2 separate regions of the Homo sapiens genome follow, and region 2 is linked to region 1. A link means that fine-mapping ties the variant in region 1 to the expression of a gene that starts in the linked region. Tissue or cell type: aorta. Region 1 holds a variant in brackets; the other region holds the start of a gene. All regions are shown on one strand. Distances are from middle to middle.

Region 1 (8,105 bases):
ACGTTTGCTCTGCATGAGGGAGAACAAAGCTGTACGTGAGGCTCCCAGACCATGAGAGGTGCCGAGGTTCCCCGTGGGCTCATTTGCTGGATTCATCTGGCACAAGAGATGCGTGCAAGGTGCCTCTGACCCCCAGGGCTCGGCAGAGATACCATGTGCCCCTGTAGCTCATGTAAATTGCATCAGGATCCACCCAACACTAAAAACCTGTCTCCAGCATGGGCTCTGCCAGGTTGCAGACCTGCATGCTCACATTCCAGTCCCAGGCGCAGGCCTGGCACAGGCTTAAATAATGCATCTGCCTCTTGAGAACAGAGGTGGGCATCTCTCTTGCCTGGAGAAGTTGCTCCGAAATGGACCAAGGGGTGGGGGAGTGGGAAGCTGGGCCCTTTGTGAATGTTCTGGGATATGCTGTGGGGTTGGGTAAAGCAAGAAACAGAGGGTAAAGGGGACCCCTGTTCCACAGCTCTCATGCCCTACCACCTCTAGCCATCAACTGCCTGCCAGGTCAGGGGCAGCAAGAGCAGACCTTTCCAGAAGAGACTTATCCTTTGGGCACAGGCCACCCTGTCTCTTAAATGTCTCTCTGCCTTGTCATGACCACCCTCTTAGACACTCTCTTTGCACTTCTCCCCCGGCTGGCTCACAGGATCATGTGTGCGCCTCCAGAGACCTGGCATTAACAAGTGCTTCCTTGTGTCCAGGGGAAAGGCATGCAGTCATCAGCACTGCTCAGGGCAGCATCCCCAGCCTGGAAAGGGCTGGAGAGAGTGGGAAGGAGACAGTGGGTGTGTGCTGGTGCCCCAGTCTCTATCCTGTGGTCACTACCCAGGTGCACTGAGGCCAGTGGGGAAGGTGGTTTGCAATTAAGTCATTTGCTTTTAACTATGAAGCCCTGAAGCTTGCAAATGGCCTATAGTTTTACAAGTGAGAGCAGGTGTTACCCACAGTATCATCTGTATTCTGATATGTGTCCTTGAGTGGAAGAGAAAGGTAAAGTTATGCGTTGCTTGGGTCCAGGGCAATGCATCTAATTCTGGTCACACCCACAGGCCTGTGTCCTTACCAGTGGAAAAGGACAAGGCTGGGAGAAAAAAGAGTGTGGAGGCTGGAGGTCTTTCCATGGATGCTAGGGGTCTAGGGACCCTGTTTAGATGGTCAGCTTTTTAACCTGGGAATGGACAGGTTAATACTCCTGACCCTCTGAATAGGGTCCCTAGGCCCCTAGCATCCATGGAAGGACCTCCAGCAGACAGTTAATACTCTTGACTGTCTGAACAGGACCTACAAGCATCTGGCACAGAGCCCAACAGCAGCCCCATCGACCCGCAATGATATGTTTCGATATCCTGTTCCTGACACTGGGTGGGGGAGGAGAGATACAGCTTGGTACATAACCACCACCCACTATGTGCAGATGGTCCAAGGAGGGTCCATCTCCTCCAAGGGTGAGGCCTTCAGTCTTACCTGATTTGATGCAGTAGACTTGATAAGAAGGAAACCACTCTCCATACTGGCAGGTGATGTACTTGTAGTCGCTGGTGAGGCTGTAGCCAGGATCGCAGTAAAACTCCACCACAGTTCCGTGGTTGTAGCGCTCACAAGGCCGCGGGTGGCAGACGAAATCTCCGTGACTCACCATTGGAGGTAGTGGACAGACTTGGGCAGTAGGGGAGAATAAAAGTTTCAGAACCACAAGCTCACCTTTGTCTGAAGCCCCTAAGACGAAGAATGGCCTAGGAGAACTCAGTTAAAAATGTGCTTATGGATTAATCACCAGGCTACTGAGTTGCATTAGAGATGGTCTCTTTTTTAGTATTTCATGGAAGGCGGAATGGAAGCCTGCTGTAATATTCTGAGCACGTGCCGTTGTGACATGGCATTGTGAAGTACATCGTAAAAGAGAGGTTCGTTTTACAATGCAAAGAGTATGCCTATTTAATAGAGAGTATTAAGCTACTGTATTAATAATGCATGCTATTATGTGCCAGACAACCTAGTAAATAAAATTAACATATTTCTGTACAAAATCTTTACTGAAAGGCATAGTTATCCCAAGCCTGTTTCTGTGACCACAGTAGTAATTTGGGTCTATTAAAATCACAGGGCAGTGTCCCTAACCTGATCCCCTACAGCTCTGCTGAGGCTTAGCCAATGACGAACATGGAGCAGTTCTTCTAGCTCTGCTTGCAGAGCCAGGGCACAGCCTCCAGGGCAACCAGAGTTAGGTGCCTTGGGCATGAGGCTTGGTTCTGCCACCAACACCACACTGTGTGACCTTAAGCAGATCCCTTAACCTCTTTGAGCCTTGATTTTTCTCCTCTGTCAAATGGAAGCTTATTCTACCCTAGGAGGACGCCTTAGGGTTCTGACTCGAATATCCCATCATGTTAGGGGAAGAAAAAGTTGTTTTTAGTGTCTTTAGTATCTTGGTACTGCATTCTAGGTTGCGAGGTAAGGACGGTTCCATCTCTGTCACCACAAAGACGGCTTCAGTGGGAGTTCGGTGCTTTTTATGCCACAAGGAGCTCATTCTTGGATGAGGACTCAGAAATAAACAGTGCTGCTGCTTAAACATTCTTCAAGAAACAGTCAAACCACAGATTCTATCAGTGCCAACTTCAAACCCACACTCACAGAAACCAGTAAGAATTCTGACCAAAAAAAAAAAAACCTAAACGAAAAAGAGTTAACTTTTGATTCCCTCCCTTGGGGTAACCAAACACCCTGGCCAGTGCAGAACAGGCACTGCCCACCATACAGGCCAGAAGAGGTGCCCTCTCCACACTGGCCACTGAAACTACTCACTGGCAGCAGTGGGTGCCACTTGGAAAACAAGATGGCCCTCCCTGCAGAGCAGGCCACCCTGCCGGAGGTGTCCCGATGCGTGTGAAGCAGGGTTGGAGGCACACTACAGGCACTCTCTAGTCCTTCAAACAACACTGTAGTGTAGATCTTGTTGGTTCTTTCAGAGAAGGGGAAACGGAAACTCACAGAAGCAACTAGAGGAGTGAGTAGAAGCCCAGGTATGCTCTAGACAGGCCTAGGTCTGAATTCCGGCTGAACTACTCACCAGCCGAGTCACCCTAAACCAATCCCTGTGCATCTTTGAGCTTCAGGGTCCTCAGCTGTACAACAAGAGTCTCTGAGGGCTATCTCGAGAAATGCTGGTGAGGGCTTAGTTCAGAGCTGACAAACTGTGATTATTCAGGGAAAACCAGGACTTGAGTATCTAAAGAGATGGAATTTAACGAGGTGATGGCAAAGTGGAGAAGCCAGCAGGAACACCCCAAGATTAGTGAGAGCAGGAAGCCACTACCGCTCCTGGGCTGGTGGGATGAAGGGGTCTCGTTGCTGGGGTCCCTAGTGGAAGGTGGAACCATGGAGGTCTATCCCGCGGGAACTGGAGCCCGGGGAAACTCAGACCCCGCTGGAGATGTCCCCAGGGCAGGAACAGTGAGGGAGAAGTAGCCTGGTTCTCCACCTGCCCACCCTCCAGGCTCCCTCTGGACAAAGCCAGTGGGGAGCCAGGTGACAAGGGGGTCTGGGAAACAGGGTCTGCGGTGGACAGCCTGTCTAGATCTGGTGCAGTGCAGGGAAGGTCCAGGGCAGATCTGAGGCTGGCAGGCCCAGGTGTGCTCAGTAAATGGTGGCTGTCAGGTGGCTGCTGTGAGCATCCCACAGGTGGACACTGGCAGAGACAGGCTTTGAGCTCTGACTCTGAGGCCCAGGAGCTTTCTGCTGCTCTGCCTCAGGGTCTCTCCTGGGCTGGCAAATGCAGTCACACAACCCCTTGCATTTCCACAAACAGGGGCTCTTTTCAAGTTTGCTACCACCAGGGTGCTCTGGGAGCATCTCCAGGAAATAAAGCAGAAGGAAGCAAAGGGAAGGACAGCTGATGAGGAACAGGGAGAGAGAAAAAGGCACTGGCCACGTTGTTGAACTGGTCCTGGGAGATCCAGGGATGTGGCCGTAAGGGCTCTTCTCTCCTTGGAGGCCCTCCTC[C/G]GTGCTGCTTCTCCTCTACTCAATTCCTGGTTCTTCCCACAAGGAAGGGGTCTCCAGTGGCCCCGGGACTGCCTGGGGGCCCCCTTCCCTGCACTGCTGGAGCATTCCCCAGCGCTGTTGTACGCTCAGGAGGCCGGCATCTTCTCTGGGACAGGAGCCCCTTTCTGTGGTCAAGGGTATGGCAAGTGTCCATTGACAGATGAATGGATAAAGAAAATATAGGCAATATACACCACAGAATATTATTCAGCCTTAAAAAGGAAGGAAATCCTGCCATTTAGGACACAATGGAGAAACGTGGAGGACGTTCTGCTAAGTGAAATAAACCAGGCACAGAAAGACAAGATACTGCATGATTTCACTTATATGTGAAATCTAAAGAAGTTGAATACATAAAACCAGGGAGCAGAACAGTGGTTACCAGGGTTGGGGAGGTAGAGGGAATCAGAAGATGTAGGTCAAAGGGTAAAAGGGTGCAGTTCCATAGGACGAAGCCCAGAGCTCTGATGTATAGTATCCAGACTCCAGTTAATAATACTGTATTATACACTGGAAATTCACTAAGAGAGTAGATTTCAGGAAATGGATTATGTTAACTTACTTGACTGTAATAGTCATTTCACTGTGTAGATGTATCTCAAAACATCATGTTGTACACCTTAAATATCTAACATTTTTATGAAAGAGAAAAAGAGGTACACAGAGCAGGAAGGCACTTCTCCTCAAAGGCTCTCTAAACAAGCCCCTGAGGGCCACTGTAGGATTAGAAAATTACCAAAACTCTTTTCAAAGCACAGAAAATGTCATGAAAGAGCCCACATAAATGTATGCAAGTTTGTTATCAGCAGCATTTTTTTCTCACTGGGCCTGAAAGATGAACGACTGTTCAAATCATTGCATTCACCCCGAGGCAAATGGTCCCATGGTGTGCTCAAGAATTTCTGTACCATACAGATCAACCATTTAATCAATCATTTAATGAGCAAAGGCAGGCAGCACGGAGTGGCATATAGGGCCGTGGGCTGTGGAGTTACCCAAATTTGTGTTCAAACCTCAGCTCTACCACTGATGAGCTTCAGGGTGTTAGGCAGCTTGTTTGACTTCTCAGGGTCTTAGCTTTCCCATCTGTCTAATGAGTGAAACAATTCCCAACTCCTCCAGTTGTTGAGAGGATTTGAAGATGTATGAAAACTGCATAACACAAAGGTCAGGGACACAGTAGGCACTTAATAAATAATAGCTATTAGTATCACTGGTGTCCAAACTTGCTGGGGTTCCCATGCTGCCCTTCCCGTACTGGGGCACTACCAGGCTCCTTATGCAATTAGGATACCTGGGATTGCACCAGGGAAGCCCCAAACATTCAGAGAATGTGAACACATCTCATCACCACATTTTCTCAGAGGCCAGATAAAAACCATCCATTGTAGAGGCCTTAACTCTGAGACTGTCATAATCGGCTGGTAATGGAGATGCATTTTCCCCTTAAGTAGAAACAATTATCTTCACACCTTGTAGTGTTTGTAATGATTGCACCTGGCAGACCATTAGCTTTGCTGTAAAGGAAACCCCATGTGGTGTGGTGAGGGTAGGGGGTGGGAGCGTTTCTTTTAACTTGGAAGGAAACAACAACAAAAGTATTATTAATTATAAACTTAGGGAGGCTTATTTAAAAATCCCAATATAAAAATACCCATGGCTTAGGGGACTTCCACCTCTCACCCAACACTGCCTCTCACTATGAGGCTCGACTGAGTACTGCTACTGTCTCCTCTCTACACCTTCCCTAACAGACAGACAGTTCCACACAGACAGACAGACAGACGGATGGACACACTCCCACACCCAGAGGCCTCAGACACATGGCAAACAGCCCCATGAACAACGGCCACATGGTTGGCGTTTGAAATAACCTGTGTGTTCCTAGAAATTCCGGTGAGTAAAAGTGGACCGGGCTATGGCACTTTTTTCTGTTCTTATCTTAGAACTCCTTTAGGCTCAGCCTGTGACTCATATCCCGTCAGTTGCTAGTTCTAAGGGAAACACACCCAGGGAAAACCTGTGGGTGGCATGAACAAAGATCCTTCTGCAACTCCATTTTTCTTAATGTTTCTTACTTTAGACATTATTAGCAACAGGGCTTTTGTGAGGCTTGGGAGTCTGGACATTCAGTGGTTATAGGCAGAATCCAAGAAAGGCTCTGCTGACACTCAGCCAGAAACGGATGATTCCTGTCCCCGAGGTGTGAAGTCTCTGTTCCTTGTTTCATGACAGAGGGTTACGGCTCTTTTCAGACTAGCTGGAAAATTCCTACCTACCCAAAAGGCAGCAGAGTCCAGTTTTTACCATACTTAGTCTCTTGTGGAACTTCCCAGAGGTGGGCTACATGTGGGGAGGCGGGACCAAAGGATAGGGTGCTGAGGCATGGGACCTGAAGTCTTCCCTGTGTTGGCCAAGAATGGCCTGAGCTGGGCTGGATGGGGCTGCTATAAGACTGCAATTTCCCCAAATAAGCCTTCCCTCATTTTCCAGCCTCCTTTCAATTTAGTGTCTTTTCCTCACCCTCCCTCTGGCTATTTCCTCCTATGCAGATTTAATTCCAACACAAACACCAGCCTCTTTGGGAAGCCTTCCCTGAGTGCACAGGCAGTGATCTTGGAGTTCCTGGGCACTTTGTGCATTTTACATGCCTAATACTTGTACAGATTCATAAACTCTTTGAGAGCAGGGGCCGTGTCTCTAGAGTTTTTCTAACTCCTGTAGCATCCAGCATGATTCTTGATAAACATTTGCTATTTGAGTGAATGGAAATGTCAAAGTTTTCACAATAAACCAGAGGTGGTTCCCTGTCCACTTCTCTCCTGTTGGCAATGAGCTGCAATATTCATGCTGTGTCTGGTCTCATTTTTCAGTGGGGGAAAAAAGGTGAGACATGATAATAGTTTTATCATAGCCTCATGGCTTCACCCGACGGACACCACACACCAGGATTTGTGTCCATTTTAGGGATGTCTTAGTGACGTGAAATAGAGCTTTGCCAGTCCCACCTCTGAGATACACACTAAAATAAAGAGGCCAACGTTTCTAACACCTTCAAAACAATGCCAGTTGGTTCTTCCCTTGATGCACTAACAGGTGTGCAGATCATGGTGAAATACAGTATAGGATAAAAATGGAATGTTTAATTCAAACGTCCTTTATTGCAGGAGAACAACATTTAGAACAGAGATGTGGTGGTGCTAGTTGAGGAACAGGTAGGTGCTGGGGTGGGAGAGGACTTTAACACAGGGCAAAAATAAAGCACAGCAGCTGCCAACCTGATGTGTGGGAAATAAAGGACAGGGAAAAGATGTTCAGGTCTTCCTCCTGAAAAAAAGAAGTGTAAATATGAAAACATAAGAAGACTATTTCTCTTGATTGAAAAAAAAAACCTAAAGCCCTTTTCTTTCTAAAAAAAATAAAGACTTTATTTTTAAGAGCAGTTTTAGGTTCACAGCAATATTGAGCAGAAGGTACAGGAAGTTCCCGTATACTCCCTGCTCCCACGCATGCACAGCCTCCCCCATTATTCACATCCCCACCAGAGTGGTGCATTTGTTACTGCTGATGAACCTACATTGATACATCATTATCACTCAGAGTCGAGTTTACATTAGGGTTCACTCTTGGTGTTGTACATTCTATGGGTTTGGATAAATGTGTAGTGACATGTATCCACCATTCAAGTTATCATGCAGGGTAGTTTCATTGCCCCCCCAAATCCTCTGTGCTCTGCCTGTTCATTGCCCCACCCACCCCCAAACCCCCAACAATCACTGATCGTTTTGCTGTCGTCATAGTTTTGCCTTTTCCAAAATGTCATATAGTTGGAATAGGACAGTATATAGCCCTTTGAGATTGGTATCTTTCATTTAGTAATATGCATTTGAAGTTTCTTCATATCTTTTCATGGTTTGAAGGTTAATTTATTTTTAGTGTTAAATAATATTCCATTGTCTGGATGTACCATAGTTTATTTATCCATTCACCTACTGAAGGACATCTTGGTTGCTTCTAAGTTTTGGCAATTATGAATAAATCTGCTATAACATTTGTGTGCA
Region 2 (8,105 bases), 950 kb after region 1:
AAAAATGGCAGTATATGTAATGACTTTTGCAAATGATCAGTGCTAATTTGCAGACTTTTGTTTAAAGAGGGTTTAAACAAAATAAGAAAATTTCATGATTACCAGTTGCTATTAAATGAATTGTAACTTTTTTTAAAAAAAAAGAATGTCCAAGCCAGGTGTGGTGCTCATGCCTGTAATCCCAGCACTTTGGGAAGCCAAGAAGGGCAGATCACTTAAGGTCAGGAGTTCAAGACCAGCCTGGCCAACATGGTGAAACCCCGTCTCTAGTAAAAATACAAAAAGTTGCTGGACGTGGTGGCACACACCTGTAATCCCAGCTACTCGGGAGGGTGAGGCAGGAGAATCGCTTGAACCCAGGAGGCAGAGGTTGCAGTGAGCCAAGATCTTGACACTGCACTCCAGCCTGGGCAACAGAGCGCAACTCCATCTCAGAAAAAAAAAATGGTATATCCAGATTCACATTTTTTTTCAAACTCTGCATTTTTCTTTCTTTCTTTTATTTTTTAATGTTTTTGAGACAAAGCCTCACTCTGTCACACAGGCTAGAGTGCAGTGCCACAATCTCAGCTCATTTCTCAGCTCATTGAAGCCTCGACCTCCTGGGCTCAAGCAATCTTCCCACCTCAGCCTCAGCAATAGGTGGGACCACAAACATGGGCCACCACGCCCAGTTAAATTTTTTTTTTTTTTTTTTGAGACGGAGTCTTGCTCTGTCGCCCAGTCTGGAGTGCAGTGGTGCGATCTCGGCTCACTGCAAGCTCCGCCTCCCGGTTTCATGCCATTCTCCTTCCTCAGCCCCCCAAGTAGCTGGGGCTACAGGCGCCCCCCCCACCATGCCTGGCTAATTTTTTTTGTATTTTTAGTAGAGATGGGGTTTCACCGTGTTAGCCAGGATGGTCTGGATCTCCTGACCTTGGAGACCGCCTTGGCCTCCCAAAGTGCTGGGATTACAGGCATGAGCCACCATACCCGGCATAATTTTTGTATTTTTTATAGAGGTGGGTTTTTGCCATGTTGCCCAGGCTTGTCCCGAACCCCTGCCCTCAAGCGATCCCCCTACCTCGGCCTCCCAAAGTGCTCAGACTACAGACGTAAGCCTCCGCACACCTTTTGGACTGGTGTGCCAGTTCACACATGCCTGTGATAGCAACTGCGTTCTGAACTGCAGGGATACATTTACTTGTCAGCACCTGAAAACTTCCTCCTGAGTTGAGTCCAATTATCAGCTTCATGTGCCATCTGCCAATCCAGATGAAACTTGGCAAATACAAAGCTGTCCTTTTCCAGGTGACACTCCCCACCTTCTTTTTCCTCCACCATTTCATTAACAACTAAAAAGCTCCTGCATGATCAGACCTGTGTATCTATCCATCATCAAATCCCACTCCTTTTTCGAGACTGGGACCCTCTGGAGGCTGACCCAGCCACGCATTTGCTAGCATGCCCTGCAGACATGACCCTCGCTGGGCTCTGATCAGCCTTCAGGCCTCCACTCCAGGTGTCACTGTTCTGTCTCCCCTCTGCTCTCACAGCCTTCTCTGCTAGATGTCTCAGCCGTGCTGGCCCTCTCTATTTCAGAAGTGAATGTACTGAGAGGGTCTTAGGGACTTATTAATAATGCTCCTGGGGTCGGATGTAGTAGCTCATGCCTGTGATCCCAATACTTTGAGATCACTTGAGCCCAAGCGTTTGAGACCAGCCTGGGCAACAAGGTGAGGCCCCATCTCTATCAAAAATTCAAAAAAGTAGCCAAGCATGGTGGTGCACGCCTGTGATCCCAGCTCCTCGGGAGACTGGGGTGGGAGGATGGCTTAAGCTCAGGTCAAGACTGAAGTGAGACATGAGGCCACCACTGCACTCCAGCCTGGGCAACAGAGCAGGACTCTGTCTCAAAAAAAACAAAACCCACTATAACCATAATACTATTATCACACTTAAGAAATTCATAATTCCTTAATATCATCACATATCCAATTGATATCTGAGTTCAATTATTTCATGTCAATGTTTTTAAACTATTTCAATCAGAATCTAAATGAGGTCAACACGTTGCAATTGGTTGGTATGTCTTTTAAACTCCTTTTAATCTACAGGTTTCTCTTTTTTTGCCTTGAGTTTCATTTATTAGAGAACCCAGACATTGTCCCATATAGTCTCCCAGAGTTGGATCTTGCTAGTTTCATCCCCACGGCCTAGTTTAACACATTCCTCTGTCCTTTCTATTTTCTTTTTTTTTTCTTGAGAGGGAGTCTCCGTCTGTCCCCCAGGCTGGAGTGCAGTGGCTCCGTCTCAGCTCACTGCAACCTCTGCCTCCCAGTTCGAGCGATTCCCCTGCCTCAGCCTCCTGAGTAGCTGGGATTACAGGCGCCTGCCACTACGCCCAGCTAATTTTTTTATATTTTTAGTAGAGACGGGGGTTTCACCATCCTGATCAGGCTGGTCTCGAACTCCCGACCTCAGGTGATGGACCCGCCTCTGCCTCACAGAGTGCAAGGATTACAGACGTGAGCCACCGCACCCGGCCAAATGTCCTTTCTATTTTCTATAAATTAACAGTCAGATCTAGGGGCTCGATCAGATTTGTGTGTGTGTGTGTGCCGTGTGCGCGTGCACAGCATGTTCTTTGACTAGGAGGCACACCTGCTTTGGTTATCTTCTTTTTGTAATCTTTAAGTTGCTCTTTGATGTAGACGTGGTAACTAATGTTGAAACAAAATTAGTTTCGTTTCAAAACCTTTCTTTCAGGAAGAGGTTGTGGTTGATTACTTCTGCGACAGGTAGATGCAAGGTTGAGCAATCATCTCTTAACAGAAGTGGTCACACTAGAATAATTCAAGCACAACAACAAATCCCACATCATCACCCCCTCTTAATAATGGTGTTTTCTTTTTACTTGATTAGCTTTTAATTGTCACGCACTCTGCATTTTTTCCCTGAGGTATTATTTCCAGAAGGCAGCGAAATATGACTCAATGGCTAATTTGCTTTTTAAAAATTAAACAAAACTTAGGCCAGCTGCCATTTAAGAAGGGCTCCGGGGCCTCCAGACTCGGTGTGACCGTAGCCGTGCCCGGTGCTCCCCTCGCGGAGGCGTTAGGGCGGCAGGTTTATCTCACTTGAGACCATTCCTTCCTTTTTCATCTTCTCCGGGCTCCGGCGCAGCAGGCCGCAGGGGCGGGCACTCGCAAGAACGCGGCATCCTGGATGGTGGCCGAGTCACCGAAGCTCAGAACCCCGCGTCCCAGAATCGCTGAGAGCCGGCCCCGCACGGGGGCCTGGGAGCGCCACGCGCCCTCCACCCAGAGAGGCAGGCGGGCGGGCCGGGGGGGGCGGGGCCTCGGGACTCCGCCCACGCCTCCGTCTCCTCCGCGCTCCGCCACAGCCGGCCGACACCACACCAGCCGGGGAGCCGCCGCCGCCGCCGCCACCTCTGAGCAGCCGGCTGGGAGCGAGAGCCGACAGCTAGTCTGCAAGCCACCGCTGTCGCCATGGGGAGCCGCGTCTCGCGGGAAGACTTCGAGTGGGTCTACACCGACCAGCCGCACGCCGACCGGCGCCGGGAGATCCTGGGTGAGGGCCAGCGGGCGCCCCGTTATGTGCGTGCGTGGCCTCCCGGCGCCGGGGCGCGCTCTCCCCTCGCGGGCCCTGCGCGGTCGTGGGCGCCGGAGGCCCGTTAGCAGCCTGCTCCCCGTCGCGTCCCGTCGCCGCTCGGGCCGCCAGCCCGCGGGTCAGCGCGGGAGAGGCTGGGCGAGGAGCGGGGGGAGGGACGGGTCCTCGGAGCCGCGCAGCTCCGACCCTTCCGCGAAGAGGCGCAGGCGCGTCCCCGAGCGCGGGAGTCCCCGCCAGGCCCACGCCGGCCGGTTGGGGCGAAGGGTGTCCCCGGCTGTGCCAGCCTTGAGTAGATCTTTTCGCTAGAAGATTCCTGTGCCCTCAGGTGGGCGCCCTTTCCTCTCACCACTCCCTCTCCTCCGGAGCGGGCCGAGGTGAGCGGGTGCCGGCCTTGGGGCTGCCTGAGTGCTAGGCAGGGTGTGGTCCTGGGCATCCTTGGGCCTACCAGCGAGCCCTGCTCAGGGTGTCGGGCGCCGGCGGGCAGTACTGGCGGGGGCGGCCGCAGTCCCGGCCTTGGGCCCGTTAAGGGGGCCGGCGTCCCTCCATATGCCCCCCGGGGCTTCTCGGACTTGATGGGCCCTGGTCGGTTCACGCCGCTTGTCCCATTGATCCTCACGACAAGCCTGGGACGTAAGAACGGCGGATTCGTAGGCATTTTTCATCCATCTCGGTTTTGTGGATGAAAAGACTGAAAATGGAAGACTTGCCAAATAAGGAAAATATGTGGCGTGGCCTGCTGGTCCCCTGACAGCTAATTGAGAGGCCTTAACTCTCCAGAGGATTCGGGCCTTCTGTGTTACATAGAGAATGCTCATCTCTCCCAGGCTACTCCTAATATGCTAGGGATTGTGTGGAATGCTTTACAAACATTACCCAATTTCATCCTCTTGGTAATTCTACTTGGTTGGTATTATCGCTGTTTTAAAAAATGAAATAAGAACGCGTGACTAAATGCTAGGGGGATTCTAATGCGCATTCGGTTGCCTCTTCCAGAGCACGTGTTTGTTTTTTGTTTGTTTGTTTTTTGAGACTGCACGTGTTTGTTTTTTGTTTGTTTGTTTGTTTGTTTTTTGAGACTGAGTCTCACTCTGTTGCTCATGCTGGAGTGCAGTGGCGCGATCTCCACTCGCTGCAACCTCTGCCTCCTGGGTTCAAGCGATTCTTCTGTCTCAGCCTCCCGAGTAGCTGGGATTACAGGTTCCCACCACTACGCCTGGCTAATGTTTGTATCTTTTTTAGTTAGAGACGGGGTTTCACCATGTTGGCCAGGCTTATCTCGAACTCCTGACCTCAGGTGATCCGCCCGCCTTGGCCTCCCGAAGTTTTGGGATTACAGGCGTGAACCACCGTGCCCGGCCAGAGCACGAGCTTTTTAACCTCTGTTGAGGAAACGGGGACCGGTCACGGTAGCTCAGGCCTGTAATCCTAGCACTTCGGGAGGCTGAGGCGGGAGGATCGCTTCAGCCCAGAAGTTTGAGACCATCCTGAGTAACATAGTGAGAGCCCCCCGTTTACACACACACACACACACACACACACACACACACACTTTTTTTAAATTGAGGAAACGGTGAGTTGAACATGAGCAATTATTCCTTATATATAGTATTTCCTTAGTTTTTCTTCTCAACATTCATTTGCCCAGTGAAAAGAAAAAGCAAGTAGCTGGGACCACAAGCGCACACCACCATGCCTGGTTGATTTTTCTATTTTTTGTAGAGATGGGTTTCTCCGTGTTGCCCAGGCTGGTCTTGAACTCCTGGGCTCAAGCAATCTGTCCGCTTTGGCCTCCCAAAGTGCTGGGATTTTAAAGGCGTAAGCCACTGCACCCGGTAACTTTGGGTTCTTGAATTCCCTTCCTCCTCTTCTTCCTCCTCCCCTACACTCCATTAGAGAAAGGGTCTTGCTTTGTTGCCCAAGCTGGAGTGCGGTGGTTGTTCACAGGCATGATGATCACTGCAGCCTGGGCTCCAGTGGTCCGCATACCTCAGCCTGCCAGTAGCAATTTGTTTGGCACATCACTTACACATACTTGATATGAGATAGCATGATACTTTTTTGAGACGGAGCCGCACTCTGTCACCCAGGCTGGAGTGCAGTGGCCCAGTCTCGGCTCACTGCAACCTCTCCCTCCTGGGTTCAAGCAGTTCTGCCTGCCCCAGTCTCCCGAGTACCTGGGATTACAGACGCCCGCCACCATACCTGGCTAAGTTTTTCTATTTTTATTTTTAGTAGAGACAGGGTTTTGCCACATTGGCCAGGCTGGTCTCAGATGATGCGCCTGCCATGGCCTCCCAAAGTCCTGGGATTACAGGCGTGAGCCACCCTGCCAGGCCACATATGATATATTTTATCAATGCCTTATCTACATGTTACATAGGAATAATCTAGCGTCCTACCTGTGTAAAAACCAACTCTGGAATACTGAAACTGAGCTACTTAATATTCTGAAAATCAGGACGGGTGTGGTGGCTTTTTTTTGCCTGTAATCCGAGCACTTTGAGAAGCTGAGGCAAGAAGATCGCTTGAGGCCAGTTCAGAACAGCCCCATCTGCACGAGAAATTAAAAAATTAGCTAGGCGTGCATGCCTGTCCCGCTACTCAGAAGGCTGAGGCGAGAGGAACACTTGAACTCAGGAGTTCGAGGCCAACCTGGGCAACATGGCAAAACCCCATCTCTACCAAAAAAAAAAAAATTTAATTAGCGGGACATGGTGGCATGTGCCTGTGGTCCCAGCTACACAGAAGGCTGAGGTGGGAGGATTGCTTGAGCTGGGGAGGTAGAGGCTGCAGTGAGCCGTGATTGCCCCACCGCGTTCCAGCCTGGGCAACAGAGTGAGACTGTCTCAAGAAAAAGAGATGAAGGAAGTGAGAAGGTGCTGATTGATACTTACCTCACACTGAGCCTTTTTTCCCCCCACAGACTTATCACTGAACCATTTCACTGGGAAAGTAAAAGGACCACATATTTCTTGGCCGGGCATGGTGGCTCACGCCTGTAATCCCAGCACTTTAGGAGGCTAAGGTGGGCGGATCATGAGGTCAGGAGATCGAGACCATCCTGGCTAACACGGTGAAACCCCATCTCTACTAAAAATACAAAAAATTAGCCGGGCGTGGCGGCAGCCACCTGTAGTCCCAACTACTCAGGAGGCCGAGGCAGGAGAATGGCGTGAACCCGGGAGGCAGAGCTTGCAGTGAGCTGAGATGGTGCCACTGCACTCCAGCCTGGGCGACAGAGTGAGCCTCCGTCTCAAAAAAAAAAAAAAAAAAAAAAGAAGGACTACATATTTCTCAATGAAAATACAGTGTACAATGTTTTCCATGCAGGTGTAAATACTAACTCATGTTCTGTTTCAGGGTGGGAGATGGAATAACCTGTAGAAAGAATCTTTAGATTTGTTTAAATTATACACAAATGATAAGAGATCTTTCTGAAAGTATTGACTTTTTGGCGGGGGAGGGAAGGGGCCTGATAGAACAACCAACAATTGTACACTTTAAGTTTACATTTAGAGTTCACATTAAAAGTTCATTTACAAGGCATCTGTTTGAAATTCGTGAGGATGAGCTGGGCTGGGTGGCTCATGGCTGTAATCCCAGCCCTTGGGTGGCTGAGGTGGACAGGTCACCTGAGGTCAGGAGTTCAAGACCAGTCTGGCCAACATGGTGAAACCCCGTCTCTACTAAAAATACAAAAATTAGCTGGGTGTGGTGGTGGGCGCCTGTAATCCCAGCTACTGGGAAGGCTGAGGCAGGAGAATTGCTTGAACCCAGGAGGCAGAGGGTGCAGTGAGCTGAGATCTCACCATTGCACTCCAGCCTGGGCAACAGAGCGAGACTCCGTCTCAAAAAAAAAAAAGAATAAATCACAAGAAATGGTTCCTTCACTGTTATACTTTAACATGATACAGCTTTTTAATGTTTTATTTTTTGAGAGAGAGTCTCACTGTGTTGCCCAGGCTGGAGTGCAGTGGTGTGATCATAAATTCTTGGGCTCAAGTGATGCTCCCGCTTCAGCATCCTAAGTAGCTGGGACTACAGGCTTGTGCCACCTCACCTGGCTAATTTTTTTTATTTTTGGTAGAAATAGAATCTGTTTGCCCAGGCTGGTCTTGAACACTGGGCCTCAGGCAGTCTTTGTGCCTCAGCCTCCCAAAGTGCTGGATTAATGGTGTGAGCCACAGCACCTGGCCAATAGCTTTATTGAGATTATAATTCAACTATCATGATTTATTCATTTAAAGTGTACAGTTCAGTATTTTTTAGTATATTCACAGAGTTGTGCAGCTGTCACCACCATATAACCTTAGAACATTTCATCATCACCAAAAGAAACCCTATACTCATTAGCAGTCCCTCATATCCCCTGCTTCTACCTAGGTAACCACTAATCTACTTTGTGGCCTATAGATTTGCTTATTCTGGACATTTCATATACATGAAATCATAAAATACCTGATCTTTTATGATTGGCTTTTACTTAGCATAAT

The links. PIP is the estimated chance that this variant, and not a neighbour inherited with it, causes the effect.
Region 2: it holds the start of DEGS1, and the variant in region 1 is fine-mapped to the expression of DEGS1 in aorta (GTEx, PIP above 0.99).

What each region holds. Positions count from the first base shown.
Region 1 is chr1:223,227,730-223,235,834 of GRCh38, forward strand. It overlaps SUSD4 (sushi domain containing 4), which reads right to left. Exons shown (of 9, transcript NM_017982.4): 6 at 1,468-1,659; 7 at 1-9. Among named protein-coding and RNA genes, the nearest start is that of TLR5, 89 kb to the left of the region's middle. The variant C/G (reference allele first, on the strand shown) is at 4,006.
Region 2 is chr1:224,179,846-224,187,950 of GRCh38, forward strand. It overlaps DEGS1 (delta 4-desaturase, sphingolipid 1), which reads left to right and starts at 3,395. Exons shown (of 3, transcript NM_003676.4): 1 at 3,395-3,573. The coding sequence starts at 3,492. RefSeq lists enhancers at 2,571-2,720, 2,574-3,404, 2,981-3,070, 3,405-4,234, 5,708-5,767 and 1 more and silencers at 3,221-3,420, 3,521-3,900, 4,061-4,140, 5,442-5,736.